4 linked regions of the Homo sapiens genome follow. The protein of the gene in region 1 interacts with the protein of each later gene in a biochemical or structural test. Each region holds a gene or a part of one and is shown in the gene's direction. Other genes may lie near its edges. The genes, in order: CSNK2A1, PTEN, CALM1 and PML.

Evidence for each region.
Region 2: the proteins of CSNK2A1 (region 1) and PTEN form a complex in vitro, tested with the Homo sapiens proteins (3 studies listed by BioGRID, with this or other methods).
Region 3: of the proteins of CSNK2A1 (region 1) and CALM1, one has a biochemical effect on the other in vitro, tested with the Homo sapiens proteins (3 studies listed by BioGRID, with this or other methods).
Region 4: of the proteins of CSNK2A1 (region 1) and PML, one has a biochemical effect on the other in vitro, tested with the Homo sapiens proteins (2 studies listed by BioGRID and IntAct).

The regions. Positions count from the first base shown.
Region 1 is NC_000020.11:471,317-478,302, reverse strand, and holds the end of CSNK2A1 (casein kinase II subunit alpha), read left to right. Parts: 3' UTR 1-5,805; downstream 5,806-6,986. UniProt on the Homo sapiens protein: Catalytic subunit of a constitutively active serine/threonine-protein kinase complex that phosphorylates a large number of substrates containing acidic residues C-terminal to the phosphorylated serine or threonine.
Region 2 is NC_000010.11:87,929,140-87,937,332, forward strand, and holds part of PTEN (phosphatidylinositol 3,4,5-trisphosphate 3-phosphatase and dual-specificity protein phosphatase PTEN), read left to right. Parts: intron 1-1,906; coding exon 1,907-1,950; intron 1,951-3,873; coding exon 3,874-4,112; intron 4,113-8,193. UniProt on the Homo sapiens protein: Dual-specificity protein phosphatase, dephosphorylating tyrosine-, serine- and threonine-phosphorylated proteins.
Region 3 is NC_000014.9:90,400,029-90,408,221, forward strand, and holds part of CALM1 (calmodulin-1), read left to right. Parts: intron 1-36; coding exon 37-67; intron 68-1,230; coding exon 1,231-1,374; intron 1,375-3,833; coding exon 3,834-3,940; intron 3,941-4,350; coding exon 4,351-4,486; intron 4,487-4,660; coding exon 4,661-4,689; 3' UTR 4,690-8,193. UniProt on the Homo sapiens protein: Calmodulin acts as part of a calcium signal transduction pathway by mediating the control of a large number of enzymes, ion channels, aquaporins and other proteins through calcium-binding. Calcium-binding is required for the activation of calmodulin.
Region 4 is NC_000015.10:73,997,716-74,005,908, forward strand, and holds part of PML (protein PML), read left to right. Parts: intron 1-288; coding exon 289-761; intron 762-8,193.

The DNA.
Region 1 (6,986 bases):
ACCCTCCATAACCCTCAACCCTTCAAACCTGACGGTATACCTCATTTTGTTCTCCCGTCTCTGGCATTCCTCACCCACCCACGCTGACTGGTCTTTCCAAAGTTCATTTCTGTAATATAGGATGTCTTTGGTTTCAACAAACATTTGTAAGTGCCCCTGAGCCTGGTCTTTGCTATACACTGGGGATTGAGAGGTGAGACACAAGCCCATGGGGAAATGTATGTTAATTAGAAAAGTGAAAAAATTGTGTATATGGGATAATTCCAACTGTTTTAAAAAAAAAATCCTAGGAAAAATGCAAATGCCTATTTCAGAGAAAGAAATGGAAATCCCAAGGTGGCAAAAAGGAAGGCAGAATTCATCCTGAATGTAACTGGGGTTTTTTTGTTTTGTTTTGTTTTGTTTGTTTGTTTTGTTTTTGAGACAGGCATGGGATTACATGCACCACCACGCCCAGCTAATTTTGTATTTTTAGTAGAGACGGGGTTTCTCCATGTTGGTCAGGCTGGTCTCGAACTCCCGACCTCAGGTGATCCGCCCGCCCAAGCCTCCCAAAGTGGTGGGATTACAGGCGTGAGCCACTGCGCCCAGCCTAAGTGGGTATTAAAGTCAGTGCTTCCAAGACACTGGGTCTGGGTATAGGTGGGCCTCAGGCTATGGACTAGGGTTTGAATGCCCCCAGGGAGATAGGACACAGACTCCCGGGCTTTCTAAGATAGAAACTGAAACAATGCTGTGGCACTTGGAAAGGCTACAGGGGCAGGATTGAGGTGGTGGGGGTGGTAAAAACTAGAAGAATACTAGCTGTTGTTGCCTCTGGGTGATGAGGTTAAGATACCACGGAAGGCCCACACACCTGTGGTTGGAACACTTTGGGAGCCGGGAGTCCCAGACCAGCCTGGACAACATGGCGAAAACCCACCTCTACAAAAAATAGATTAGCTGAGTGTGGTGGTGTGCGCCTGTGTCCTAGCTACTGGGGAGGCCAAAGGACGAGAATTAATTGCCTGAGCCCAAGAAGTCAAGGCTGCAGTGAGGTGTGATTGTGCCACAGTACTCAAGCCCAAGTGACAGAGCAAGACCCTGTCTAAAAAGATTTTTTTAAAGTCACAGAAGCTGGGCGTGGTGGCTCATGCCTGTAATCTCAGCTCTTTGGGAGGCTGAGGCAGGAGGATTGCTTGAGGCCACGAGTTGGAGACCAGCCTGGGCAACATAGGGAGACCCTGTCTCTACCAAAATTAAAAATTAGCTGGATGTGGTGGCACATGCCTGTAGTGCTAGCTACTCTGGAGGCTGAGGCAGGAGGATCACTTGAGCCCAGGGGTTCAAGGCTGCAGTGAGCTATGATAGTGCCACTGCACCCCAGACTGAGCAACAGAGTGAGACCCTGTCTGTAAAAGAAGTTGTTATTAATTGAAAAAAAGATTTAACAGGCTGGGTGCAGTGGCTCACACCTGTAATCTCAGCACTTTGAGAGGTGGAGGCGGGCGACTCACTTGAGCTCAGGAATTCAAGGCCGGTCTGGGAAACATGATGAAACCCTCTCTACAAAAAATACACAGATTAGCTGGGCATGGTGGTGCATGCCTGTAGTCCCAGCTACTTGGGAGGCTGAGATGGAGGAATCAATTGAGCCCAGGAGGTTGAGGCTGCAGTGAGCCATGATTTCACCACTGCACTCCAGCCTGTGCAACATAGGGAGACCCCGCCTCCAAAAAAAAAAGTAACAGAAAAACTCACTAGGTGCCGGGCATGGTGGCTCACGCCTGTAATCCAACACTTTGGGAGACCAAGGCGAGTGGATCACCTGAGGTCAGGAGTTTGAAACCAGACTGAACAACATGGTGACACCCTGTTTCTACTAAAAAATACAAAAATTAGCTGGGCTTGGTGACGTGTGCCTGCAGTCCCAGCTACTTGGGAGGCTGAGGCAGGAGAATTGCTTGAGCCTGGGAGGTGGCGGTTACAGTGAGCTGAGATCACGTCAGTGTACTCCAGCCTGGGTGACAGAGCCAGACTCCATCTAAAAGTAAAAAAGAAAAACTCACTAGGAAGGAATCTTGAAGTCTTGGAGAAGAGAGAATGGTCCATGAGGCCTCAGAGGAGGGGCTGCCTGAACTGGCGAGGGAGAGGCCCAGCCTAACAAGTTTCAGCTGCCAAGGCCCATGCCTGGGATCAGAACCCTGTCTCCTGGCTCAATTTTGCTTGTGGGGCTGCTTTTGCACAGCTATGTTGCCAGGAATCTGTCCAGGTTCCTAGCCAGTCATTGCAGACAAATTTTTTCTTTCTTTTGCTTTTGTTCTCTGTCTAGTCTTAGTCTCACAAATTTCTAAGGCAACTGTATGTAGTTCAGCTGATCTAGATCAAGTTCAGCCCAAGCAGCTGTTTTTCAGGTTGTGGGTCGGCTGGGCTGGACACCTCCATGTGAATTGGATTCAGGTTTGCCCAATGTGGCAGAAGTTGCAGCAGCTACTCAGGGCGTGCTCTTCTCATGAATCACAGAAACTTAGAAGAGACCAAATGGAATCACACAAGCACATTTCAAGCCTCTGCTGTGTCACAAGCACCATCATCCCATTGGCGAAAGCAAATCACATAGCCAAGCCCAACATCAGTGCAGTAGGGAAGCATAGAGCCTGTGTTGGGAAAACTTTATGAGGTTATATGGCAAAGGGTGTGTATGTTTAGTCTTATTACAGGGGAATGAAGAAACAAACCAATAATGCAATCAGCCATACTATTCATATATATCAGTAGGAACAGAAGGCAACCACATATAACATCTATGTATATATATATGTGTGTGTGGAAAGGATTACACCAACTTTTTTTTTTTTTTTTTGAGTCAGAGTCTTAACTCTGTCACCCAGGCTGGAGTGCGGTGGCATGATCTCAGCCCACTGCAACCTCCACCTCCCAGGTTCAAGCGATTCTCCTGCCTCAGCCTCCCAAGTAGTTGGGATTATAGGCACATGCCACCACACCCAGATAGTTTTTGTATTTTTACAAAACAACAGGGTTTCACCATGTTGGCCAGGCTGGTCTGGAACTCCTGACATCAAGTAATCTGCCTGCCTCGGCCTCCAAAAGTGCTGAGATTATAGGCGTGAGCCACCGTGCCCGGCTGAGAATACTTGTTTACTTGTTTTCAAGCAACAAAAATTGAGAATCAGTCTTTGAGACTCCATGGCCAGAAACAACACAACATTCCACTATACACAGGGTGCTTCTGGGGGTCCTCGGTGTTGTGTTTATTGGGGTGGTACCTAAATGTTGTATTTGCTCTATAATTATTTGTTAAACTCTCCATTTACGTTTGGGGCACTTCTCAGTATATTTGCTAGAGTTCAAATGTTTAAAAGTTTACAAAATGAAAACTGAGCAGAGTAAGACAAGCCAAAAAAGTATTAACTCAGCAGGAATGGGAAAAGTTATGAAAGGAGGGAAAACTAAATATCATACTGCTGGTTCAGCTGTGATTAGAATTTACGTAGTCATAATGGAAACACTGAATACTGGTCTAACCAGGATTACAGTATGATGACAATGGAAAGAGGAGTGATGGGAAATGCTGGCATGTGTGGTGGTGTTGGTAACAGGACAAGCGGTCTAAGCTCTAAACTCTCATCATTTATAAGGGGAACTAATGCCTAAAACTGAAAAATCAAACAGTTGCATGTTATTTTGAGATTTTTTAAATTATTGTTAAGATAGTAGCAGTATTTACTTTTAAAACTATATTTATGTATTACTCTGGTGAAAAAGCAACTACTTTTAATAAATGGATATTTATCTTGAATGCATCCACTTCCTCCCATTCCCGTTGCCAAATTCCTCATCCCAGCCACCATCCTCTCTTGCTTGGAGTATCATAGCAGATAACTGGTCTTGATGCCTTCCCATCTCGTCTCAATTCCTGATTCATCTGACACCTGCAACCAAAGATCTTTCAAAAATAAATATTCTAGTCCAGGCACAGTGACTCATATCTATAACCCCAGCATTTTGGGAGGCCAAGGCCCGATGATCACTTGAGGCCTGGGTAACACAGCGAGTCCTCTGTTCTACAAAAAATGAAAACATTAACTAGTGTGGTGGTGTGTGACTATAGTGCTAGCTACTGGGGAGGCTGGGTGGGAGGATACGTTGAGCCCAGGAGTTGGAGGCTGCAGTGAGCTATGATCACATTGCTCTCAGTGAGACCTGGCTGACAGAGTGAGAACCTCTCTCTTAAAAATAATAAATAAATTTTATCTCAGTCCCTTGCTTAAAAGCCTTTCAAAGACTAGATCACTTGCAATGTTGTTGTCTCCTCCCAAGGGAGTCATTCCTCCCTTCCTCTTTGTTGACAGAGCCCCAGTTTGAGGGACAGCGGGATATCCACCATGCTGCTGTGAGACTCGGGCAGTTGTGACTGGTTTAGAAGTGGATACACAGGGAGAGGTCTTCTGGAAAAGGTCTTCTGGAGAGCTGAGATCAGAAGACAATCAACTGGCTTCAAATCTAAGGAGAGACAGGCACAAAATGGAAGAGATGACATGGGCACTGGTTACCTGGTAAACACAAGTGGACACTGGTGAGGGACTGGGTCATGGAGACTGCAGTAGTCTTTACCCTTTTCAGCGTTTTTCACCATGAACCCCACTGGGAGCACACAGAAGATTGGAGAAAGTTTTAATAAAATGTCTCAAGATCTGGAAGAAGACAATGGCAGCTACTGTGAAAGGATCACAGTGCTCCACCCAGACCCTTCCCTGTATCCCCTACCGGACAAAAGCCTTAGTCTGTGGAGGGAAGGACACCAAATCCTGTCACCCCCTTGGATGAAGCTCCCTTGCATCTGGGGGAATGAAACAGGAACAAAACAAAACTTTCCCTGGGCAGGGGCAGGAATACACACTGGGCCCAGAACTGGGGGAGGAACAGGAGCACTAAGGAGGACATAACCCCAAAATCAGAGACACAAAGGGCCTGACAGAGACTGAGACTTGATCAGAACAGAGAATTCCCTCCTCCCCCACCTGCCAATGGTAAGCTGACAAGCCTTGAGTTAGAAGTAAAAATGTTACAGGAGAGAGACAAGAGTATGGGAAGAAGACCCTTTCTGAGGGTCACAAAGGGAGGACCTAAAGCTGAGCAGGGAGCACACATGGAAGGAGAAAATCCCTCTGGCAGGCCAGCCTGCACCCTCAGTCCAAGGTGTCATTGGAGGAACTGGAAGCTGCTGCATTGGGGGTAACCATAGCAACAATAAACCTCAAACCTAGCCCAACTCTTTTTTTTATTTACTTTTTAGAGACAAGGTCTTGCTCTGTTGCCCAGGCTGAAGTGCAGTGGTGTGATCGCAGCTCACTGCAGCCTCAAACTCCTGGGCTCAAGCAATCCTCCTGCTTCAGCCTTTGTAGGAGATTGGTCAGGGTGGTGGGAGAAATTATAGGAAAGACACAAACCTTCTTGGAAGGCCGAGAGGTTTTGCAAAAGCTTCAGAAAGAAATTATGGCTGAAGGCAGCCAAATTCTTATCTGAAGCCTGAGAGCAAAGGGCAGATAACAGGGGAGTTGTATAGGAACTTACCTAGATAAATTTGTTTATTCCTGTGTCCAGAAACCAACCTTTGATCATTCACACACAGGACTGCTGTCTACTTGGGATGTTGACAATGTTTATTGCCCACAAATTGTGTTTGCTCCAAGCCTTTGTCATTAAATTTGTGCTAAATAAATGTGAGGGCCACCAGCTTAAGGGGACTGCTAACTCTCTTCGGCCCCTAGTGCTGGCAGTCCCCTAGCCTGCTCTCTCACTGAATATCTGTGTCTGAGTACTCCTTTCATCTGTCACTCGGCCAAAGTCTGTGGGACAGACTCGGCAGGTGATTCCCTGTGTGAGGAATGCTGCAACAGATCACGACGGAACCCTCGAAAATGAAGGTGAAGAGACTGCGCAGTCAGTAAGTCATTGGTGCCTGTTCAGCATTTCCAAGTTCAAAGGAATTGCTCAAGCTAGGGACGATCATCATGGGATGACAGTTGTCATCATGGGACAACAGTTGTCAGCTCAACAGCAACAGTATATAAAAGTAGTAAAACAAATGCTGAAAGTTAGCAGAGCCTCAGACAGGCTCAATTATGGGACCTAATGCAAACTGTTGTTTCCCATAACCCATGGCTCTCGGAAGAAGGTACACTAGACGTAGAGCTCTGGGAAGAAATTTTAACATCATGAGCAAGGGCAATGGGTCTCAGTAACATCTTTAACGTTATGGGCTTTAGTTAGGACTGCTTTGGTCCCACTCTACACAGAAAAGCCTAAAAAAGTAAGGGAGATGGAACCGTCACCTACCCTACCGTCTCCTCCTTCTCCCTCAGCCCAGCCATTAACAGGCAAAAATAACAAAGAGGAAACAGAGGTTTTGCCTGAGCCCCCTCCTCCAATAAATTGGAAAAAGACAAGGGATACACTACAGCTTTGGGACCCTGTCTTAGCCAAGCGGCATCAGAAGGGGAGCTCTTAGCCTGCCCAGTAATGCAAGATCGACAAGGCGATCAGGTATATGAACCCATTTCTTTTGACGCTTATAAAGAGATAAGAAAAAAACGTTAAAGAAAATGGAGCTGCTAGCCCATTTATGAAAGGAATAATTGAAGCCATAGCAGACAACTTCTTTTGACGCTTATAAAGTGGTAAGAAAAAGCATTAAACGGAGCCACTAGCCCATTTACAAAAGGAATAATTGAAACCATAGCAGACAACTTCCATATCACCCCATGGGACTGGTCAGTGCTAGCTAAAACAACTTTAAAGGCCAGTCAGTACCTCCTCTGGAGGGCAGAATTTGATAAATTGTGTGAACAGCAAACCTTTCTAATAATGGCCACTGTTATTCCTCCCCTACCCCTGACATGGCTCTCTCAAAATCCTATTTGGGTAAAACAGTAGCCTTTAAAGAGAGAGAAATTACAAAAAGCCCATGAATTAGTGGAAGAACA
Region 2 (8,193 bases), on another chromosome or scaffold:
GATTGTGAGGATGAAACAAAAAAAAGTGGAAACTCTTTGTAAGGTGTGTTCATCTGGTTGACACTTAGTAGTCATTACTTCCACTTTCCGTCCATATAGTCCTCTTAACAGTAATATTTGAGAGGCATTTTTATTAAAGCAGTCTTAAGGAGTGTTCGTCAAACCACATGTTCTGGGATCCTGAGAAAGTAGGGGAAGTTTAGAGAACTGAAGCTGCACAAAACTAATGTTTATTTTCTGTTGTGTTGTCCTGAGACCAGCTTCTTAGATTGTGTTTCCTAGTCCTACATCTCTGATTCCTTATAAAATATTCCATTATGAATTCTTCACTATTGACAATTTCTCCCCTTTTATCTTAAAAGTACCAAAGAAAGTGTAAAATGTGACTGTCTTGTCAGTCCTCTTTTTCCTGTTTTTCATGTCAGTGGGTATGAAATTACTAGCAAGGATGCATATATGTGCATATGTCATTACTAAATGCATTTTCTTTCTAGAAAAACTCAATATACTAAATTGTACTAAAAAGGAAAAGCTTGTTTTGTTTTGAGTGGTAGTATGAAAGTTGTTTTATTTTAGGTCTGACCAGTTAGAAACCAATGGATTGTAGTTTATTTATAATTAGTTAAACCTTCATGTGAATTTGGTTTTGAATTACCTTTAAGGTAGAGAAGAAACTATATAGATGTTTTTCAGGGTTTCTAAATGTACAATACAGGTTCACAATCACTTATTTGAAACTCTTGGGGCCAAGTATGTTTCCATTTTCAGAAATTTTAGTTTTCAAAAGGTAGCACAGATAAATATACTTTTACATAAACACCCCAGTGGGGTGTGGGTCAGTACCTGAAATGAAATGTTTTACTCTTCGCTCTAAGTGTATTAAATATTATGTACAATCTTATTACTTCAGATCAGGATTTGCTGTAGTTGAGTTTGCCATAAAACTTAAGAGAAAATTTTAGATGTTTTGAACTTTTGGGATATTGAAATTGCAGGTTAAGGAGCTATGGACCTTTATTTGTTTTAAAATGCTAAGAGTTTATTTTAAGTAATTTTTAAAAAATTTGTTTTGCATAGTAGTTGGAGTTACCAGGGTACTGCTAACCACACTGATATGTAAGATCTCTTTCTGAGCCTTTTATTGTTTGTAAACATGGCCTGTTAATCATTAGAAAGCCAGTACATACTAACATATCACTGCTATTAAGACAAATATTAGCATACTCTAGTAATGACAAGTCAGCATTTTACTATTCTGTATTGATTTTACTTATTCTTTCATTACTCTCATACTGTAATTAAAACTTGCAATCTGAGAGACTGTTGAAAAAGGTGATCGTTGGCTTTTCAACAGGGAGTAAGGTCTGGTTTAAAAAAAAATTAGTAAGCATTTGGCCAAGTAGATTAACAACATTCAGTTTTTCTTTACTGTCCTTATGCTTTTACTATTTTTAACATATATCTTTTTGAAGAATAGTTTGAGAATTATGTATGCTTAACTATGAGATACAGATACTATTGAAACTAGTCAGTTGTTTATAGGTACTTGTAAAATTAAAAATATATTCCAATAGCATGCAGATTTTTCATAGAGGAAATTTGAAAGCATGGAAGCACCTGAATTTACAGTACTCTGTATTAGTGGCATCACAAGTTTTTAAGCAAATGTATTAGCTCTAATTGCATACACTTAATCTTTTAAGCTTTGGTTTTATTATTATAATATGGGGGTGATAACAGTATCTACTTAATAGAATTCTTGTTATTACATGAAATAATTAATGTTAAACACAGCATAATATGTGTCACATTATAAAGATTCAGGCAATGTTTGTTAGTATTAGTACTTTTTTTTCTTCCTAAGTGCAAAAGATAACTTTATATCACTTTTAAACTTTTCTTTTAGTTGTGCTGAAAGACATTATGACACCGCCAAATTTAATTGCAGAGGTAGGTATGAATGTACTGTACTATGTTGTATAACTTAAACCCGATAGACTGTATCTTACTGTCATAACAATAATGAGTCATCCAGATTATCGAGTGAGATACATATTTAAGAATTATCTTTAAAAATTTCAAAAATTTTAATTTTACTGTTGTGTTTTAGGAAAAAGTATTGCATAAAGCTATTAATATTGTCAGGAAGACTAAAGTGCAGCATAGACTAAGAATTAGGAAAATTCCTAGACTAAAAATAGTATAAGGAGAGGGTTTACCTACTATTTGAGGCAGTTGGTCTAATAGTAAGCAATCACAGGGAGAAAGCAGAACTACTTAACTCTTCTGTGTTGAGGAATGACATAAAAGGTAGGAAAGGATATAACAAATGTTGATAAGAGGAGTCTGATGGATGAGAGGAGGGAACTGCTTTAAATGAGTTTCTACTTCAGACATAAGTTAATTCTCAGAGCCCACAAAAACTTTCACTTTTATTTGTGAAATACAACTCAGTTCTCATGGCTTAACACTTTAAACCATGAGAAAACTGAAGAGTTGAGAAGCTTGGCAGATGCTGCTGTGATAGTCAAAAAGAAAGTGGGTGCCATGAGCTACTATTGATGTATTTGCCATTGATCCCTCCTGAAAATCTAGAATGGACTTTCAGACAAATGGTTTGAAAATTCTAAATCACTAATGATTGAGATTTAGTATAGGTTTACTAAGAACGGGTTTTTTTTGTTTTTGTTTTTGGTGGATTTAGGCTGTTGCTTACTAAGCAAAGCAGGCTTTAGTTGAGGTTTATCTTGCTTTAAACAGATATTTAACAGATTTTCCTGGAGGTTTTTGTGTACCACTGGGAAAATGAAGTTAGGCAGATGACTAAGTGAAAGCTGTCCTGCTGACTCCTTATAATGATAGTCATTGTCTACCAGAAGATCTCTCCTGTCACACCAAAGGATAATTGATTATATCCTGTACCATATTATGAGTCACCTGATTGGAGATATAAGACATACTTCTCACATATTTAGATGACACAGGTTAGTACATTGAATATCAGCCAGGGTTTTTAAGGATCTTAATAGAGTGGAACTAAGGTAGAAACTATTAAGAGCAATTAATAGTGATATATCTATAGTCCTGTTTCTAAACAAGTTTTTTTAAAAACCTCAACTCTGACTATAGTGAACAGAGAAGTCTTGGACTCTTACAATTCATGTGAGAAGACCTGAAACTTTGATAACAATTATATACATTTTGTGAGTAATTTCTTTGGTGTATGCCTTCACATATCTCTGGTATGTGACCTATGCTGCAGTCCATTGAGCATAGATTCCCAGAATGTATTCTCCTGCAGAAAATGGAGGAAAATAATACTTGGCTTCCCTAATGATTACATGTGTATACAACACTAACATTTGCAAGACCACCTTTAAATAACACACTTAGCATTTTTATTTTATGAAATGTAATATGTAGTTCTTTGCATAGTTTATCCTATTAGTAATCTATTCTGTCTTTGGAATATGTTTTGTGATGATGAAATAAATACTATAAATAGTATTATTCCTTTTGCATTGAGAGTCCTGACGAAATGTCCATGTGACAGTTCATTTTGGGTTTAGCTCTACCTCTAATATGTGACCTATGCTACCAGTCCGTATAGCGTAAATTCCCAGAATATATCCTCCTGAATAAAATGGGGGAAAATAATACCTGGCTTCCTTAATGATTATATTTAAGACTTATCAAGAGACTATTTTCTATTTAACAATTAGAAAGTTAAGCAATACATTATTTTTCTCTGGAATCCAGTGTTTCTTTTAAATACCTGTTAAGTTTGTATGCAACATTTCTAAAGTTACCTACTTGTTAATTAAAAATTCAAGAGTTTTTTTTTCTTATTCTGAGGTTATCTTTTTACCACAGTTGCACAATATCCTTTTGAAGACCATAACCCACCACAGCTAGAACTTATCAAACCCTTTTGTGAAGATCTTGACCAATGGCTAAGTGAAGATGACAATCATGTTGCAGCAATTCACTGTAAAGCTGGAAAGGGACGAACTGGTGTAATGATATGTGCATATTTATTACATCGGGGCAAATTTTTAAAGGCACAAGAGGCCCTAGATTTCTATGGGGAAGTAAGGACCAGAGACAAAAAGGTAAGTTATTTTTTGATGTTTTTCCTTTCCTCTTCCTGGATCTGAGAATTTATTGGAAAACAGATTTTGGGTTTCTTTTTTTCCTTCAGTTTTATTGAGGTGTAATTGACAAGTAAAAATTATATATAAATACAATGTATAATATGATGTTTTGATGTATGTGTATATACATTGTGAAATGATTACTACAGTCAAACTACTTAACATATTCATCACCTCACATAATTATTATTCTCCCCCCAGGGTGAAAGCATTTAAGATCTACAAGCTACAATTTTCAATTATACAATGTTATTATTAACTATAGTCACTATGCTGTCCAGTAGAGCTTCAGATCTTGTTCATCTTGTGTTCCTCCCTCCCCACCCTCAGTCCCTGGAAAACAGGTTTTAAAGATAGTTGCTAATCCTTATTTCTTCTAAATTTTTAAATCAGTTGCTGCCTCAATTTCTATATGAGAAATGACTGATTGATTTCATTTTTCTGTTCACGCTACCATTTTCATATCATACTAGCACATGTTACCCATTAACTGTATTGCAGATTTGGTCTCACAAAATTCTTCTAAAATAACATTTTTAAAAAGCATATTAATCAAAAATAAGCTTTATATTTCTGAAGCTTGTTTGAGCATAGAATGCCTTTGGATAAAATACCATTACCTAGTAAAGTGTGAACTTTTATAATCCATAAAAATTATTCTTTTATAAGAATATTCATAAATGTAGTTAGATTAATAGAAGATTCTCGATTCTTTGATCAGAAAACTAAGGACTATATTGAAAAATCAGTGACAAATTTAATTCTTATAGTACATCTGAAAGAAAAAAGAAAACTCTTGGGAGAACTTTTACAGTGATTTAATTTTGCTGTTGATATATTTCTTTGGGTGGTAAGTATGGCAAAACATGTTAAAATTTAATGCAAAGAGATTTTGTACATTTTTCCATCTCTAAGAAGGACAAAGCCTAAGCCCCTCCAGATAGATAGAAAAACTCATTTAGAGAGTTCTCCTTCATGTTAATCTAATTTCTTCTTAATTCAGCTGTAAAACAGAAATAGAATGATCGTATTAATCATTTAAAGCTGTGTAATTGCATAGATTCCTTGTTCCTTTACCCCCTCTTATATCTTGTTTCCTATCCTTTGTGACTTTTTTTGCATTATATATAAGGATGCCGAAATACTGTTTATTGTTGATAGTTTACAAAATTGAATCTTACATTAGTGCATAATTTTGGTGAATGTTGAAGATTATGGTAGATTGCCTTACATTTCTGCATATTGTTTGCACCTTGGAATGATAGCACTGGCATGAATTATAGAGCTGAGGATCTAAAGATTTTTACTTTGATTTATCCCATTATCATCTGCAGGGAAACAATTGCTTTTACTGATTAAAAATGCAGGCTGGGCACAGCGGCTCACGCCTGTAATCCCAGTACTTTGGGAGGCCGAGGCGGGCGGATCACAAGGTCAAGAGATCGAGACCATCCTGGCCAACCAACATGGTGAAACCTCATCTCTACTAAAAATACAAAAATTAGCTGGGTGTGGTGGCGCGTGCCTGTAATCCCAGCTACTCAGGATGCTGAGGCAGGAGAATCGCTTGAACCCGGGAGGTGGAGGTTGCAGTGAGCCGAGACTGTGCCACTGCACTCCAGCCTGGTGATAGAGGGAGACTCCATCTCAAAAAAAAAAAAAAATGCAGTAGCAAAAGCGATGGTAGAAATTTAAAACAGAGTTGATGAGCAGCATATATTTTGGTAGTGGAAAAAAAGGTAAAAAATTTTTTGTAATAAAATAGAAAAATTTTGTAATGTGGAGGCGCAGAACACTAGATTTAAGCCAGGGGGTCTTAAATTGTGTTACATTCCTTTTAAAGTCTGATGGAAGGTATAAATGTTCTCCCCTCAAAAAATGTGCATAGTGTACATAAAATTTTGCAGTTTTTATTACATTGAAATATATTCTTTTAGACAGAATGTAAAAGAACCTTCATGAAAACTATGTCACTTTTTTATGCAAAAACCAGTGGCTACTACATGAGAGCAATGAATAAATCTAAGTGGTACAAATTAACCAAAATTAAGCTTTAGTTCTGTTCAATACTAAATTTTAATGAAAAGACTGCTATTTAACTTTTAAAATAACAAGTTGAAACTATGCTCTTTGACTTTGACTTTGCAACTTTTATATGATCTTTGATATCCAATCAGTGTTGACTTTGGTAAAAAGTGCTGAAAATGCTATTTTACAAAAGAAAGAAGAGTAAATGGAATCTGTAGATTCTATTGCCTGATGAAAGTAGACGTGTCAAGAAATAAGAATTCTCCAAGGCTCTTCAGATAAATTCATGTTTCATCATTTTCTTTGCCTTCAAGTTACTGAGATCATTTTTGGCAAGATCTGTATCATTAATGCTGTGTTAGGAAAGAAAAGATTATGACTCCACATTTTACTTTCAAGGTTGAAGAGTTAAACTGTTTAAAAAGAGTGTATGTTATCCTGTAAACAGCAGTATCAGGCTGTAGAATTTGTCTTCTGAAAGCAGGGAACTTATATATAGCAAAGAACTTCATAGTGCTCCCATTTCTTGACAAAACCTCTCGAGAAGCTCTTGATTGAAAGTCTTGGCTTTCATGAATCTGGCAGCTTTCACAATAGTGGATTTTTCATGACAAATCATCTTACACAGGGAATTATTCAAGGGTTGGCACTTGAAACAGTAGAATACTTTCACAACAAGAGATAAGATTTCTTTCAGGATTGATGACAGTCTTGCACCCTAGCGCATACTGATGAAGAGAGCAGTGGGTGACCATGACATGGAGAGCTTCTGTCTTTACCAGTGCCCCAATATCAGATGTGTTGTCTGGCAGTAAGGTGTACTGTCTGCCTACAGAATACTGAGGTTTCTTCAGGAGAAGTTTTTTGGTAAAGAAACTTTACCATTTTGAAAGTGTTAATGTTTTCTGAAGCTTCCAAAAAGATTCCAAAATGGGAATGTTTCCTTGATTGTGTCACCATGCTTGCATTTGATGAAAACTTGTAGCCGGCTATACTGAGAAATCATATCTGAAGAAAGGTGGTACTTCCAATCTTTTTGTGACCTACTTTATTATTGTTTTTTTAATGTCAGGGTTTTTTTTGGAATGGAGAAAAGTATTTGATAGAGGTATTGCAACAGTCTTATTCTTCTTCATGCTACAAGTATATTTGACTCTTTCTAAGATACTTGCCTTCACTGTTCAACTGTGTGACTTTTTGTTTGTTTAGCATTACAATCAATATCCTAGTAGGATGATTTAATCAATGATTTTTAATTGGAACAAATAGTTTTTGTAATGGTCTAGGCTTTTCCAACTTAACTGTGCTCTCACATGTGGTCTCTTTTTCTCCCTCTTTCCTCCTTCTTATACACTCTCACCCACACACATATGCATACATACCCTGTCTGATGTATCTGCTTCTTCAGAATAGTTGGCTGTGCTCTGCTGATGATGAGAACTTGCCATTTAAGAAGGACTTGGGATAGTCCATGTCATCATGTTCAGGGATAAAAGTAAAACCCAAGGGCATTTAAACTTTATTGTATTTTATTTTCTGTTTCCAGTCCAAATTAAATCCAAGAGAAGGCTCCATAATCAAAAAGTAAGGACATATTTTAAATTTGCCAATGGGAAGATATTCTAGTCATTACAGTCTGGTAATACTATCAATTCTGTTTCTCTTCAGAGGTGAGGGGAGACTATTTGATGAAATCGTAAGTCCTGTAGGGTGTTGTGAAATAGGGCCAGAATGAAAGATAGCAAGAATAGTGTTATGAAAATAAAATGCAAAGTTTATAATATCATGTGGTAAAATGTAATAGTATTTACTTCATCAGTAGAACTGCTCTAGTAGCTGTATATTCTCCATCCTTGCATAGGTTGGAATATCCCCCAAGTGAAAAGAGATTGATGGGCTAATAGTTAATAGAAAATGGAGATCTGTACATACAGTGTTAAGAATGTAGATATTAAAATTGTTATATTTAGCTGTTACATAATATTAAGACTCAGAGTTAAGTAATTTCACT
Region 3 (8,193 bases), on another chromosome or scaffold:
GTGGACTGAATGATAACCTTTTCTTTCTTCATATAGGCTGATCAGCTGACCGAAGAACAGATTGCTGGTAAGTTGACAACTCCAAGGAGTCCCCAGAAGGCCAGAACTAGGCACTGACTCAGTTTTGGTGACTCCTCTGTTCCTCCCCGCTACAGTCTGGGCAGTTTTCTAAGAATTTATTTAAATAAGAACAGTAAGCAGAAACACTGAGGTCAGATGTTATTCTTGCCAGTACTTTATAGATGAGGTGAAAGGAAGTAAAACTAAGGATGCCCACATGTTAAACTCTGGAGAATTTGACCATGTTTCACAATGTGCAAAGTTTGCGTATGATTAATTGTACTGAGCCTGCTACTCAGCGGTTTAGTTTACAATTCTTATGCCATGGGTCTTTCAGTAATCTGCCACGAAAGCTTGTGCTCGCTATCCTAAAATAAATGGAAATGGGTGAATATGAGTGTTAGGACCACTGTAGTAATTGGGAAGAAAGTTACATTAGTTAAACTCTGTTGCCCAGGCTGGTCTCTAACTCCTGGGCTCAAGCAATCCTCCTGCCTCAGCCTCCTGAGTAGCTGGGACTACAGGCATGTGCCACCACGTCTGGCAGATTTTAGCTTTTTAATATTCCTGGAGGACTTGTTTTGAGACTGTTTCTCGTTAGGAAACCAGGAATGCTTCTGAAATATTCTAAAAGTCATGTGGAGAGAGTTTACCTGGGAATGTACATTTCTAGTAACCATTTTATTTGTTATGAAACAAGGGATTCTTATGGCTTTAGAAATGTAACAGGAAGGGATTTGAAGGGGGCACATGGACCAATCTTGTCAGATTGGATTTAGTCCCTTGAACCTGGGAGGCAGGGGTTGTAGTGAGCTGAGATTGCACCACTGCACTCCAATCTCGGTGACAGAGCGAGACTCCATTGTTTAAAAAAAAAAAAAAAGATTGGATTTAGGACTAATTTAAGCATGTTCCAGCTTAGCCGCCTTGAAACCTTTGGGAATATTGTGGTGTGTGGCACTGTTTATTGGGAGCAGTGTTTGCTTTATGGGCTGCTGTATGAAGGCCAGTCCAACAGGACTATTGTGGTCATTATTTCAGTAGATAAAGACCAGACTTCTGATACGTTGCACAACTTGAATGGCTGGCTTTGGCAAGCCCCCGGCAAGTGTGTATTGTGACTGGGTTGGATAAAGACATTGATTCTAACGGGTCAACTTTTGTTTTCAGAATTCAAGGAAGCCTTCTCCCTATTTGATAAAGATGGCGATGGCACCATCACAACAAAGGAACTTGGAACTGTCATGAGGTCACTGGGTCAGAACCCAACAGAAGCTGAATTGCAGGATATGATCAATGAAGTGGATGCTGATGGTAAGAGCTTTAAAACCATGAATGAGGGCCATTGTTGTGTAATTCAAGTTCAGACATGTTACAGGATTGTCTTTCAGGTCCCCAGAGCAAAGCAAATGTGCAAAGATCCTTTCTGTGGTTGCCCCAGGGCCATTGACAATTAAAATAGAAGATGATGGGCCTTGCGTCCATCCTGCTTAGTGTCTAGAATGTTTTCTGCATGGGATCACTATTGTTTTCTTCCTGCTTGGTGCGACCTAGAGCTCAAATCTATTTTTTTTTTTTTTTTTGGAGACGGAGTCTCGCCCTGTCGCCCAGGCTGGAGTGGCACTGGCGCGATCTCGGCTCACTGCAACCTCTGCCTCTTGGGTTCCAGCGATTCTCCTGCGTCAGCCTTCTGAGTAGCTGGAATTACAGGCGTGTGTCGCCACGCCCAGTTAGTGTTTTGTATCTTTAGTAGAGATGGGGTTTCACCATGTTGGCCAGGCTGGTCTCAAACTCCTGACCTCGTGATCCGCCCTCCCCGGCCTCCCAAAGTGCTGGGATTACAGGCGTGAACCACTGCTCCTGGCCGAGCTCAAAGCTTTTATCAACTGGCCCATGAGTCTGCACTGAGTCTTGAGGGGGGAGGTGAAATTAAATAGCCATAGAAAGTGCTTTTTAACAAACTTACTGTGTTTAAAGAGGAGGAGGAACCCCCAGATGAAGTAGGTGACGAGCACTCTTAGAAGTTACCATAAAAGTGAGTACAGTGTGAGCTGTAGATGTGTTTGCTGCAGAGGAGCATGTGAGGTTTGGAGGCGGATGTGTGGTGACTCCAGGGGATAGATTTGCAGAACCTAACGGAAAGGGAAGCTGTAAGGTGCAGGGCCAGAGGGAACCAGCAGTAACCCTGATAGCGGTCTGTCATCTGTTCCTCTCGACTCTACAGCAGCGGACAACAGAACTTTGATTGCTGATTTCCATCAGTAAGCAGGCTTTGAAGCACACTTCCCCACCCCTAAAAAAAAACCACGTATTTTGGTAAATCCTATATATATTCTAATGTACTGTATGACAGTATAGAACATGATTTTTAAAAGATGAGTTGGGAGGAGAAAAGGATAAAAGAAAAAATAAAAGAAGCATTAAGAATAAACAATTCGGATCTAGATTTTACTTTCTAGATGATTGACTCGAGGGTGGTGTAGTAAAATCGCTTGTCTGGTCACAAACATTTGGCAGCAGAGCTTTTGATTAGGTTCTTTGACAAAGCCTTCAGCACGTTAGAGTGGTTTTCACTAATAGTGTTTTGGAAAGAAAAGGTTGTCCATAGTTCTCTAGTTTGCTAAGATGATCAGCTACCCAGGAACGTGGAGTAACTTCCTCTTGTTTGTGGGAGCCCCGGGAATCTGTGCCTGGGGAGGGGAGAAGTCTGTTAGGCTCTTGGATTGTGTGGAAGAAGGAGAAGTTGTGCCAGGCTACAGAATCCTGTGTTTGCACTGAGAAAACAGGATGGTACCTGACCTTCTCTGCATGGCTGTGAGATAGCTTAAAATAATTTCTTTTGTTTTTGATGAATATGAACAATATCTTAAAATTTTTGAGGCTAAAAAAGTCTTGAAGGGATCCCTGAGGTATTTTCTTTGAAAGGTACTGGTGAAAATGAGTAACTTAACCTAAGGGTTTTTCTTTCTAATTTTATTTCCATTTAGTTCAATGACACTGTTAGTCTGGAGTGCTTGTCTTTGGGGGTATTCATCTCTTAGTTTTAAAGAGGAGTTGTTTGGAGTACTGGCCGTAGAACAGATTGTTCTGACAGTTCCCTAAGTGTTACTAGTCTGAGCTGTGAGAATGCTCCTGAGCTTTTCCCTTAATGGGAAATAAAGATACTGAGTTGGAAGAAAACAGGTGGCTAACCATCATAGCGTGGCCAAGAAATGATCCTGGAGAAGACTTGGTAAGACTTCATGGCCCATGCATGGCATAACAGAATCAATGTTCCTCTCTCATAATCTTTTCTCCTCTGAAACACTTTATACACTTAACCTGCAGCTCAGTTCTAGGCCTTTTTTGTGTTACTGCTGTCACTAACCAAGGCAGAGTGAGACCTGAGTGATTTCCCTAACTCAGGGATGGCAGTCGGGGGCGCTTTCTTCCCTCGGAGTGGAAAGATTCAGCCTGCGGAGTGGTGTATGCTATTTTTCTCTTGAACTGTACAGCCCTTCATGACCCTTCCATGGGCTTGAATCCAGATGTGCAGTTTCCTTTGTATAATTAAATACTATCCTGGGCACTGATGATGAGTTTGAAATTATGTGAAATTGCCCTGTGAAGTGTTTGAACGTTTTAGACCTGCAGATGATTGAACCTAGTAAGATAGTCTGCCCCTTTGTCCTAGTACATGTTTACCGTTCCGTACAGTGGTTCTGAAATGATTACTGCAGAGCAGCGTTAATGGAGTGCTTACTTTACATGAGCTTTTTGTTTTTTAATTCGAGGTAATGGCACCATTGACTTCCCCGAATTTTTGACTATGATGGCTAGAAAAATGAAAGATACAGATAGTGAAGAAGAAATCCGTGAGGCATTCCGAGTCTTTGACAAGGTAATCCAGCATCTACATAGCAGATGGTACTTAAGTATGGCTTCTTCCGCTTTCACTTCTAAAAGCTATAATAATGTTATAGACAGAAGACTTAAATCTAACTGCCTGAGCCTCTGATCTCACTTTCAAAAATCCTCCTTATGGTAACCGTATCAGGGGAGGGTAGGCATAATAAATAGGAATTTTGGACCATGTTTCTTGACTGTTACTTTGAATTGTTGTGAGCTTTTGCAAATCCTGTTTTCTGCATTAGCTGTTTGCATGTATTTAGTAGGTTAGAGGTGGGAACTAGAGATCAGAGAATTGTTTATGGCAGCAGAGTTAGCAGTAACTTGAGAGGGCATAGCTAAGTCAAAGACCTACTTCCCCACACTACATCATTAGCAATAACAATTGCTGAATGTTCACAGGATGGCAATGGTTATATCAGTGCAGCAGAACTACGTCACGTCATGACAAACTTAGGAGAAAAACTAACAGATGAAGAAGTAGATGAAATGATCAGAGAAGCAGATATTGATGGAGACGGACAAGTCAACTATGAAGGTAAAACTAAATTCTCTGAGCTCAGTGTTTCATAGTCTTACCTTTAGATCTGTAAGCAAGCCAACTGCTTCACTAGACAGCCTTTGACTTTATTTTATGTACAGTAAAGATGTTGTGTTCATTAAAGCTGTTTTCAAAGATAACCAAAAGTTACTATTATATTTGTCTTTTCAGAATTCGTACAGATGATGACTGCAAAATGAAGACCTACTTTCAACTCCTTTTTCCCCCCTCTAGAAGAATCAAATTGAATCTTTTACTTACCTCTTGCAAAAAAAAGAAAAAAGAAAAAAGTTCATTTATTCATTCTGTTTCTATATAGCAAAACTGAATGTCAAAAGTACCTTCTGTCCACACACACAAAATCTGCATGTATTGGTTGGTGGTCCTGTCCCCTAAAGATCAAGCTACACATCAGTTTTACAATATAAATACTTGTACTACCTTAATGATAAGGACTCCTTAAAGTTCCATTTGCTAATGATTAATACACTGTTTGGGCTGGCCAGTTTTTCATGCATGCAGCTTGACGATTGAGCACAGTCAGGCCTTTGTATTAAAAATGAAAAATGAAAAAACAAATTCAAAACCTATTCAAATGGGTTCTAGTTCAATTTGTTTAGTATAAATTGTCATAGCTGGTTTACTGAAAACAAACACATTTAAAATTGGTTTACCTCAGGATGACGTGCAGAAAAATGGGTGAAGGATAAACCGTTGAGACGTGGCCCCACTGGTAGGATGGTCCTCTTGTACTTCGTGTGCTCCGACCCATGGTGACGATGACACACCCTGGTGGCATGCCCGTGTATGTTGGTTTAGCGTTGTCTGCATTGTTCTAGAGTGAAACAGGTGTCAGGCTGTCACTGTTCACACAAATTTTTAATAAGAAACATTTACCAAGGGAGCATCTTTGGACTCTCTGTTTTTAAAACCTTCTGAACCATGACTTGGAGCCGGCAGAGTAGGCTGTGGCTGTGGACTTCAGCACAACCATCAACATTGCTGTTCAAAGAAATTACAGTTTACGTCCATTCCAAGTTGTAAATGCTAGTCTTTTTTTTTTTTTTTCCAATAAAAAGACCATTAACTTAAAGTGGTGTTAAATGCTTTGTAAAGCTGAGATCTAAATGGGGACAAGGCAGGTGGAGGGGAGGCCAGTGTACATGTAAATGCCCACAGCCCAGCATTGGGTTTCCCTCCCAAGGCCCCAGCACCAACCTCTGAGCCCAAGACCTTGCCTGAAAACAAGCAGATACCGATTGCTTCATCCTATTTATGGACATGTAGGTCTAGTTGCATTTTCACTGGGGGGAGGGGGGAAGGTGAATTATGGTAACTTTTAATGATCTATTCAGGCAGTAGAGCTCTTAAGGAAAAAAAAAAACCCACTTTCTCTCAAGCATGTATTTAGGGGTTGTTCTCAATTGTGCTGCTGATTACCTGTCTTATGTAACTACTTGAGACCATCTGCAAGAGACATGATTTAGTGTGTCTGTAATTCAATCTTCGCTGTGTGTGGTAGAAGCAGTAGTCACTTTTGTAAGCCAGTCTCTTCATGCCTAAAAGACACTACCAGTCACCTTTGATTCGCGACTTTTAATTTATGATTATACTTAGCCTCCTCCTCCTTTTTTTTTTTTTCCCAAGTTGACTTGACTTTGCTTTTTTCCCCCCAAGTAGAACTAATGCTAGCTTCCAGCTTGAAAGTAAAACTCCAGTGTGGAGTGAATTTTGTGTCTAATTATAAACCTGTAACCAAAACTCAGACATCTGGTACTGGTCTTTGCATTGAGATTGGTCCCTGTAAAACCCCCTTTAAAAGCATATTGCATTTAGTACAGAGCTCTTTTTTGAAATGAAGGCTGGAGATGTGCATTTTTCACGGTGTTAACTGGTTGTATCTTATTAGCAAGGAGATTGGGGTTTTGAGTGTTTGCGTGGGTGGTTTCAATTTGCCAGGGAACAGTGGCAGGCTGCTAGCAAGGCAGTGAGAAGCTCTTGGCAGCCAAATGGGTGCATTCAGGGCTGATTTATAGAGACCCTTGGCTTCTCCTTCTCCTACTCCCTGTCTTTCTGGCATTTTGTAGCTTGTTAGATTTTCTGCCAGAGGGGTGGGTCAGAGCAGTGGAGGGGAGACATCGCCCATGTGCTTCTGCTACTGGTCCTTGGGCTGGGTGGTTGGTAGAGGAGATGTTGACACTATGAGCTAAGGGTTGGCTTTTGTAATTACCTGAATCTGAAAGGAATGCCTAAGGTTACCTTGGGGTTTCTCTTCTGGTGAGATAGGGTTCCTGGTTTGAGTAAGTTAATGTCCTGGATATTTCTTGTGGCAGGGGGTGGTCAAAGAGCCTGATTGCTGACCCAGTCTCAGGCCTGTGGTCGATGACCTCTCGGTAGTTTCAAAGGGGGCTGGAGGGGGATATTTGACTTGTTTTTTCGAAATGTAGCCTTCTAACCCTCAAGTCTTTAGAAGCTGGGTGGACTCTTAGTGGTCCTGCAGCGTATCCTAAAAGACTACCTTTGAAACAGGATTCTTGTATGGCCAGGATCCTGTCTGGGAACCAGAAACCCTACACCCTCCCCCTCCAGGGAATGCTGAGTTCCAGTTTTGAGCAGAGGTGAGGCAGAATCCACTGTAGCCTTCCGCCCTGGTATTTGGGGGGATGACCAGCCCAGGCGTTGGGTGTTAGTCTGCATGAGTTTGTGAGAGGAAATAGCTGGGTGTCCTGGCAGTGCCCTTGAAGTTGGTTAGGACCTTCCTGTAAACTCTTGCCCCTACTTCTAACTACTCTATAAATATATACATATATTTATATATAAAGTGATTAGTTGAACTGGCATCCTGCTTTAGCCTGAGACTTGCCATAAGAAACTGCTGAGTACTTGGCAAACCCTTTCATAGTTTTGTTCTCCATCTGTTTGGGGTAGGTGTTGAGCGAGGCAAATGGATCTCGATATTTCAGATGGGCTTTTGATGCACTGTTGCCAAGGAAGGCTTTTTCTGATTTTTTGACAAATGAATTTTTGCACACTTTCATTGGTGTCTTTCGGCAACTTACACACATTGAAAATGAGCTATTGTACATATTTTTATATTCTCTTTATAAATGCATGTCTGATTGTACTTGTAACAATATTGTAATGAACGGCTGTGCAGTAGGCCCAGCGCTGCTGTGTCTCGTCAGAGGAATAGCTTACCACGAACCCCTCAGCATACTGGGAATCTCTTCCTGAACAACGAATGTAAATTTGGTCAAGTCTACTCTTCCGTTCATTCAATTATTTTAAGCATTTGAATTATTTATTGTATATCCTAAATATATTTCTCCTTTGGCAGTGACTAGATTTCCACTAATGTGTCTTAATCTATCCCTCCAGCTGGCAGTTACTGTTTTTTTAATCCCCTGAAGTTGTCCTGTAGGAGACAGAAATTCTTTGCTGTCTGTATCCCTTGGAGTAAGAAGGTAGTGGCATGGGTGGAGTGTGTGTTCTTTCTCCAAATCTATTATGATGTTTATTAAACACTTCTGTAGCAAAGATGGTGGTAGTTCTTTTGTTACTGAAGTTGCCCTTCACCATGGCTATTTGAAAAGGAGATGTACTTGGACGTTTCTGTAAATCTTGAGATAAACTGTTTGGAGATTTAACCACCTCTCTGATGGGGGACCAACTCTATGGAAATTGTAAATACGTTTTATTTATAA
Region 4 (8,193 bases), on another chromosome or scaffold:
CCAAACTGAGTTCCTTGAAGGCAGAATGTATCCTACACCTCTTATATCTCAGAGCCTATTACTGTGGGTGATGAGAAGTAGATGCTCAATAAATGGTGCAGTGAGAGCTGGAGGGCCTGAATAAATGGGGGTATTGGGGTGCTGATAAGCCAGGGTTTTGCATCATCCAATGACTGGCTGGAATGGAATATGAGGTCCTACTCCAGGGTCCAGCTGTAAGGGTGGTTGGCCGGTAGGTGGGGGCTTTTGGGACTTCTCCAGGCCTCACCTGCCTCTCTGGTCCCCCAGCGAGCCCCCGCTTCGGAGGAGGAGTTCCAGTTTCTGCGCTGCCAGCAATGCCAGGCGGAAGCCAAGTGCCCGAAGCTGCTGCCTTGTCTGCACACGCTGTGCTCAGGATGCCTGGAGGCGTCGGGCATGCAGTGCCCCATCTGCCAGGCGCCCTGGCCCCTAGGTGCAGACACACCCGCCCTGGATAACGTCTTTTTCGAGAGTCTGCAGCGGCGCCTGTCGGTGTACCGGCAGATTGTGGATGCGCAGGCTGTGTGCACCCGCTGCAAAGAGTCGGCCGACTTCTGGTGCTTTGAGTGCGAGCAGCTCCTCTGCGCCAAGTGCTTCGAGGCACACCAGTGGTTCCTCAAGCACGAGGCCCGGCCCCTAGCAGAGCTGCGCAACCAGTCGGTGCGTGAGTTCCTGGACGGCACCCGCAAGACCAACAACATCTTCTGCTCCAACCCCAACCACCGCACCCCTACGCTGACCAGGTGAGTAGGCCGGCACAGGGTGGGGTGGTGCATCCAAGTACCAGGTAGAGGGCGAGAGGAGCAAAGATCCAAAGAGTCACACAGCTGAGGACAAGGAGCTTCTGGGGCCTTGCAACTCTAAATGTGGTCTGCAGATATGCAGTGTCCGTGTTGATGACCACAATTTATGCTGCCAGTCCCCACGCAGGTGGATAGTAAGTTTCCAGTTTCCTCCTGTAATAAATAATGCTGCAGAATCATCTTTGCATCTTTATCCAGTAACTTCTTTAGGATAAATTTTTAGAAGTGCCACTGCTGGGTGTAGGGGGACGGGAATTCTACATTTGATACATGTTACCAAACTGCCCTTTAGAATTTAGTGGAATTTTCCGAGAGCACTGACACGGAATCTCAGTAAGGCTGGATTCTAGGATCAGAGACAAGTAGTTAGTTTCTGTCTGAAAAGTTGAAACCATTAACACCAGGCAGCGCTATCTGAGAATGTCTGTATGGGGAAAAAAAATCACATCCAGTTGTAATTATTTTTATTAAACAGATTTTAACTCAGTTTTTTAATAGGTAATACATTCGTACAGTTCACGAACAAAATTTGTAAAGAGGAGAGAGAGAGTGCAATCTTCTGTCCATGCCCAACTGCCTAATTCCCACCACTTCTCCCTCTTCCCATCCACAGGTAGCCATTGTTACTAGTTTTGAATGTTTCTTCTGAGAGTTTCTTTACGAATATATATGCAGGTAGGAGCAATCTTATCAGGTCCTATTTTCCCTCTTTTAGCCAAAAAGGTAGCATAACTATGTGAACTTTTCACCATTAGCAATAGATTGTTCATAGAAGGCGCTTCTTGGTTCTTAGAGATCCACTTGCAAAATGAAAGCATTTTTCGCTGGTTTTTGACAACTCAGAACTATATATGGCTAAACCACATATTTGCTGAACTACATATCTGCTAAACTGACTGTGATTTGTTTCCTGCTTTAGGATAAACTTCCCACACTATCAGAATAAGCTTTCCCCTCCGACTCCTCAACAGCTGGTATCACCACGTTTCTTAGCTTATTGTAAAGGTTGAGTGGCTTTCCACTTGTTTATTGGCCATTGTGTTTCTGCATTTGCGAGTGGCCTGTTTAGGTCCTTTGCCTGTTGTTGTTGTTGTTTCCGTTGAGGAATTAAGGGACTAATTAAAGAATTCAGGAACAAATTCCTCGAAAGAAAAAAATGTATGCATTTCTTTTGCTCTTACAATTTATGCAGTTTTAAAACTTACATATTTATTGGATTTTGATTGAAATTGCAATAAATTAGGAGAAATTGGCTTTATCTCTGGTTCTATCTTTTGGATTTAAAAAATTTTTTTTAATTTTTTTTTTTTTTTTTTGAGATGGAGTCTCGCTGTGTCACCCAGGCTGGAGTGCAGTGGCGCGATCTCGGCTCACTGCAACCTCCACCTCCCGGGTTCACGCCATTTTCCTGCCTCAGCCTCCCAAGTAGCTGCGATTACAGGTGCACATCATCATGCCTGGCTAATTTTTTGGCATTTTTAGTAGAGACAGGGTTTCACTATAATGGTCAGGCTGGTCTCCTGACCTCAGGTGATCCACCTGCCTCGGCCTCCCAAAGTTCTGGGATTACAGGCATGAGCCACCATGCCCAGCCTTATACTAATTTCTTAATGAATTTGTAAGCTTTCATGTTTTGAACGTGATAATGCAGCCATCCCACGGGATCCATGGGAGTCTGTTTCAAATTCATAGATGCTCAAGTCTCTGATATAAAATGGCATAGTATTTGTATATAACCTCTACACATCCTCCTGTATACTTTATTTTTTATTTTATTTTTATTTTTTGAGACGGGGTCTTGCTCTGTCGCCCAGGCTGGAGTGCAGTGCTGCACTCGTGGCTCACTGCAGCCTCAATCTCTTGGGTTCAAACAATCCTCCCACCTCAGCCACCAGATTATACAGGACTGCAGGTGTGCACCACCACACTCAGCTAATTTTTAAATTTTTTGTAGAGACAGGGTTTCACGACATTGCCCAGACTGGTCTTGAGAACTCTTGGGCTCAGGCAGCAACCCTCCCTAGGCCTCTCAAAGTGCTGGGATTACAGGTGTGAGCCACTGTACCCATCCCCTCCTGTATACTTTAAGTCATCTCTAGATTACTTATAATGCCTAATACAATGTAAATGCTATGTAAAGAGTTGTTTTACTATATTTTTGAATTTGTATATTTTTTTATTGTGGTACTTTTTTAATTGATTTTTTTTCGCCTGAATATTTTTGATCCAAGATTTGTTGAATCCACGGGTGCGTAACCTGCAGATACTGAGGGCCAACTGTACATATAAATTGTTTAGCGTAGTGCCTGGCACATATTAAATACTCAGTGAATGTTAAAATTCTATTATAATTTCTCTGCTCTAGAACAATTTGAAGAATATAAGAAATTTAGGCTTATAAAAGTTTTTTGAAAAACCATCTTGGAACTGGTGCCTTTTTTATAGTAGATTTTTGGGAACTTTTCCCATTTTTGCCATGGCATTAATCTGTTTTGGCTCTTGTGTCAGATTTTTGGAAGATTTTCCAGTTCATCCTGAGTTATCTTTCATTATTTAAAAATCTCCTATATGCCTGTAACTATACCCCCTTTTTTTATTTCTGATGTTGTATATTTGTGGTTTAGCAGTCTTTTCAAAGTACTGTACTTTTAGTCTTTCCTTAGATTGCTTACTGATTTTAATGTTTTCCTTCTTTCTGTTTGATCATTTTATTTTTGTCATTTTCTTCCTTCTAACTTTTGTCATTATTCATTTTCTAGCTTCTTGAACTTATAATTCATTTATTTGCAATCTTTATTGTTTAATAATAATAACTTTTTTTTTTTTGAGAATCTCCCTCTGTCACCCAGGCTGGAGTGCAGTGGTAGATCTTGGCTCACTGCAACCTGTGCCTCCTGGGTTCAAGTGATTCTCCTGCCTCAGCCTCCCCAGTAGCTGAGACTACAGGTGCCCACCACCATGCCTGGCTAATTTTTTTTATTTTTAGTAGAGACGGGGTTTCCCCATGTTGACCAGGCTGGTCTCGAACTCCTGGCCTCAAGTGATCCACCCGCCTCAGTCTCCCAAAGTTCTGGGATTACAGGCGTGAGCTACAATGCCCTGCCTAATAATAACTCTTTTAAGGCATAAGTTCTCTGTATATGGTTTTGGCTGTATGCCATAACTTTGATAACTTCATTAGTGTTCTCATAGTCAATCATTTCTCAAATTTCATTTCAGTCTTTTCTTAAAAAGGTTCTCTTGCTTAAGGTCAAGAGTTCGAGATCAGCCTGGGCAACATAGCAAGACCTCATCTTTACAAAAAATAAAAAAAATTAGCCAGGCATGGTCGGTGGTACATGCTTGTAGTCCCAGTTATTTGGGAGGTTGAGGCAGGAGGGTTGCTTGAACCTAAGAATTTGAGCCTGCAGTGAGCTGTGATGGTGCCACTTCACTCCAACCAGAGCATCAGAACCGGACCCTGACTCGAAAAAAAAAAAAAAGAAATTTTTTTCTCTTGAAAAGTTTTAGAGAATAGTGTTTTCTAAAATTTTCAAGTGGTTTTGATGTTTGGTTTCTTGTTCTGTCACCCAGGCTGGAATGTGATGGTGCGATTTCATACTTGTTAATTTCTGCACTATGGCCAGTTTATACAGTTTGTATGAGTTCTACATCTAAGACTATATTGAGATTTTCTTAGCGGCCTAGGATATTCCTTGGACTCACATATTCCTAGCAATAATCCTTAGAGTTGAAAAGTTGTATTTGTTGTACACACATATATATACATACACAAATATATGTATATAATATATATGTGTATATATGCATATATCTATATGTATATATCCATATATATGTAAGTTCTAGTGCTTGTGTGTGTGTGTGTATCTCCACGCTATTGAAACTTTCTACCTTTCTTTCTTTTCTTTTTTTTTTTTTTTTTTTGATGGAGTCTTGCTCTGTCATCCAGGTTGGAGTGCAGTGGCATGATCTCGGCTCACTGCAACCTCCTCCTCCCGGGTTCAAGTGTTTCTCCTGCCTCAGCCTCCTGAGTAGCTGGGATTACAGGCGTGTGCCACCATGCCCGGCTAAGTTTTTTTTTTTTTTTTGTATTTTTAGTAGAGAAGGGGTTTCATTATGTTGGCCAGGATGGTCTTGATCTCCTGACCTTGTGATCCACCCGCCTCAGCCTCCCAAAGTGCTGGGATTACAGGCGTGAGCCAACATGTCTGGCCGAAACTTTCTACCTTTCCTTCCATTCTGTTTCACCAGTTCTCTAAATGATAATTACAGAGTGGTAACTTCCCCATCAAAACATATATATAGGCCAGATGTGGTGGCTTCCACCTGTAATCCCAACACTTTGGGAGGCCAAGGCCGGTGGATATTTTGAGCCCAGGAGTTTGAGGCCAGCCTGGGCAATATGGTGAAACCCCGTCTCTACAAAAAAATACAAAATTAGCTGGACATGGTGGCACATGCCTCTCGTCCCAGCTATTCGGGAGGTGGAGGTATTCCTCAGAGAGGATCACCTGAGCCTGTCCGTTCAAGGATGCAGTGAGCCATGATCACGCCACTGCACTCCAGCCTGGGTGACACAATGAGACTCTGTCTTAAAAAAAGAAAAAAAGTGGGCCAGGCGCAGTGGCTCACGCTTGTAATCCCAGCACTTTGGGAGGCTGAGGCAGGCGGATCATGAGGTCAGGAGTTCAATACCAGCCTCACCAACATGGTGAAACCTCGTCTCTATTAAAAATACAAAAATTAGCCGGGCGTGGTGGCGGGCGCCTGTAATCCCAGCTACTCGGGAGGCTGAGGTAGGAGAATTGCTTGAAACTGGAAGGCGGAGGTTGCAGTGAGCTGAGATTGTGCCACTGCACTCCAGCCTGGGCAACAAGAGTGAAACTCCATCTCAGAAAAAAAAAGTGTATACACACACCAACACACACATACATGCACACTCTAGAACCTATCTCATCTATCACCACAAAGAGTAGAATATAACTATTCTTCCAGAGAAAATAAAACATTTAGCACACTTTTATAGTTTTTCTTCTTCCCTCTTCCTTCTCACTTTCAGATTTAGTTGAAATAATGTGAACTTTTAGTTCCAGATTACTACCAAATTGTTAATTTTTTTTTCTTTTGTAAACATCCTTTCTGAACAGGTATTAAGCTTCATGGTCATATTACAACGCACTTGTTAGCCATACCTTATACTTTAATTGGTTTCATTGCTCATGATAAGTTTTCCTATAGCTTTTCTTCTCCTTTCTTGAATTATTTAAGGTGATTAATTTTCCATTTGGCAGGAATACTCCATCAAGTAATTAAAAAAATTATTCCAGAGTTTACTTTCTGAGACCTTAAGTGTCTTTACTTGTATGTCCTTCTTTTGCTGTCACATGTGAGGGAAAGTTGAGCTAGGTGTAAAATTCTGAGGTCATAATCACAGTGCTTTCACCTCAGAATATATAAACCTTGCTTCATAAATTTCTAGTCTCTGGTGTTGTAGATGAGAAGTCCACTAATGGTCTATTTTTTCTCTGTGAGTAATCTGTTTTTGTTTGTTAAGGATCTTTATTTATTTTTATTTATTTTACTTTTTAGAGATGGGGTCTCACTCTGTCACCCAGGTTGGAATGCAGTGGTGCAATCAGAGTTCACTGCAGCCTCAAACTCCTGGGCTCAAGCAATCCTCCCACCTTGACCTCCCAAGTAGCCAGGACTACAGGCACCTGCCACCGTGCCTGGCTAATAAATATAGTTGGATGGTTTTCATTTGTTTATTTGTTTGTTTAGAGATAAGTTCTTGCTCTGTTGCCCAGGCTGGTGTGCAGTGGTGTGATCATAGCTCACTGTAACCTCGAACTCCTAGACTCAAGAGGTCTGCTAGCCTTAGTCTCTGAGTAGCTAGGACTATAGGTGCCTGCCACCATGCCTGGCTAATTTTTAAAATTTTATGTAGAGATAGGGTCTCACTATATTGCCCAGGCTGGTCTAAACTCCTGGCTTCAAGTGATCCTCCTGCCTTAGCCGCCCAAAGCACTGGGATTACAGGCTTGAGCCCATGCCCAGCCTGCTAAAGATCTTTATATAATTTTTTCTTTTTTCAATAATCTTCTATCGCCATTGTTGATCTGAAAAACTCAAGTCTTTCTTCAGCTCTTCATCTCAGGGAAATTGTATTCTGCTTTTTAATTTTTTTTTTTTTTTTGAGATAGAGTATTGCTCTTGGAATATAGTGGCATGATCTTGGCTCATTGCAACCTTTGCCTCCCAGGCTCAAGCAGTTCTCATGCCTCAGCCTCCCAAGTAGCTGGAACTACAGGAATGCGCCACTACACCTGGCTAATTTTTGCATTTTCTTTTTAGTAGACACAAGGTTTTGCCATATTGGCCAGGCTGGTCTTGAATTCCTGGCCTCAAGTGATCTGCCCGCCTTGGCCTCCCAAAGTGCTGGGATTATAGGCGTGAGCCACTGTGCCTGGCCATACTTTTTAATATACTGATAGCCCTTCATTTGTTTATTTTATTTTTTATTTTTATTTTTTGAGACAGGGTCTCACTCTCACCCAGGCTGGAGTGCAATGGCACGATCTCGGCTCACTGCAACCTCCACCTCCTGGGTTCAAGTGATTTTCCTGCCTCAGCCTCCCGAGTAGCTGGGACTACAGGTGCGCACCACCATGCCCAGCTAATTTTTGTATTATTAGTAGAGACGGCGTTTCACCATATTGGCCAGGCTGGTCTCGAACTCCTGACCTCGTGATCCACCCGCCTCAGCCTCCCAAAGTGCTGGGATTACAGGTGTGAGCCACTGCACCCGGCCCATTTGTTTATTTTTAAAATTTTTACTACTGTTGTTATATGGATATTGGAACTCCAAGAACATATTTTACATCTTTTAAATTTTTTCCCCATTAATTCTGTTGCTTTGCTTTTTTCCCCGAGATTCTCAGAGAGCTCCTCGAATTGTTTTTCTAACTCGCCAGCTCATCTTTTCGCCGCTGACTCCATTCTTCTATCTGCTACCCCTGTAGAGTTGTTGTGGGTTTTTTTCCCCCCAGCAATCTTTTTTTTTTTAATTGCCAAAAGAGCTTAATGCTCTCAGGATGCTTTTTCTTGGCAGCCTGCTCTTGTTTTCTCATTGTAGTGTGTTCTTAAGTCTCCCTGAAAAACACAGTTGGCATTTACAGAGGTGTATGTTTCCTACACGATCCCCTTTTCAATGGGTACTTGCTCAGTTTGGCTGCTGATTCTCTTCATAGGTCCTGCGGTCTGTGCTATCTGCTCCCATGTAAAAGTTGACATCTAGATTGTTCAGTGTTTGTAGCTAGCGTGGGCTGGCAGCAATTGTGTAAAGCACAATTTATACCCCACATTCAAT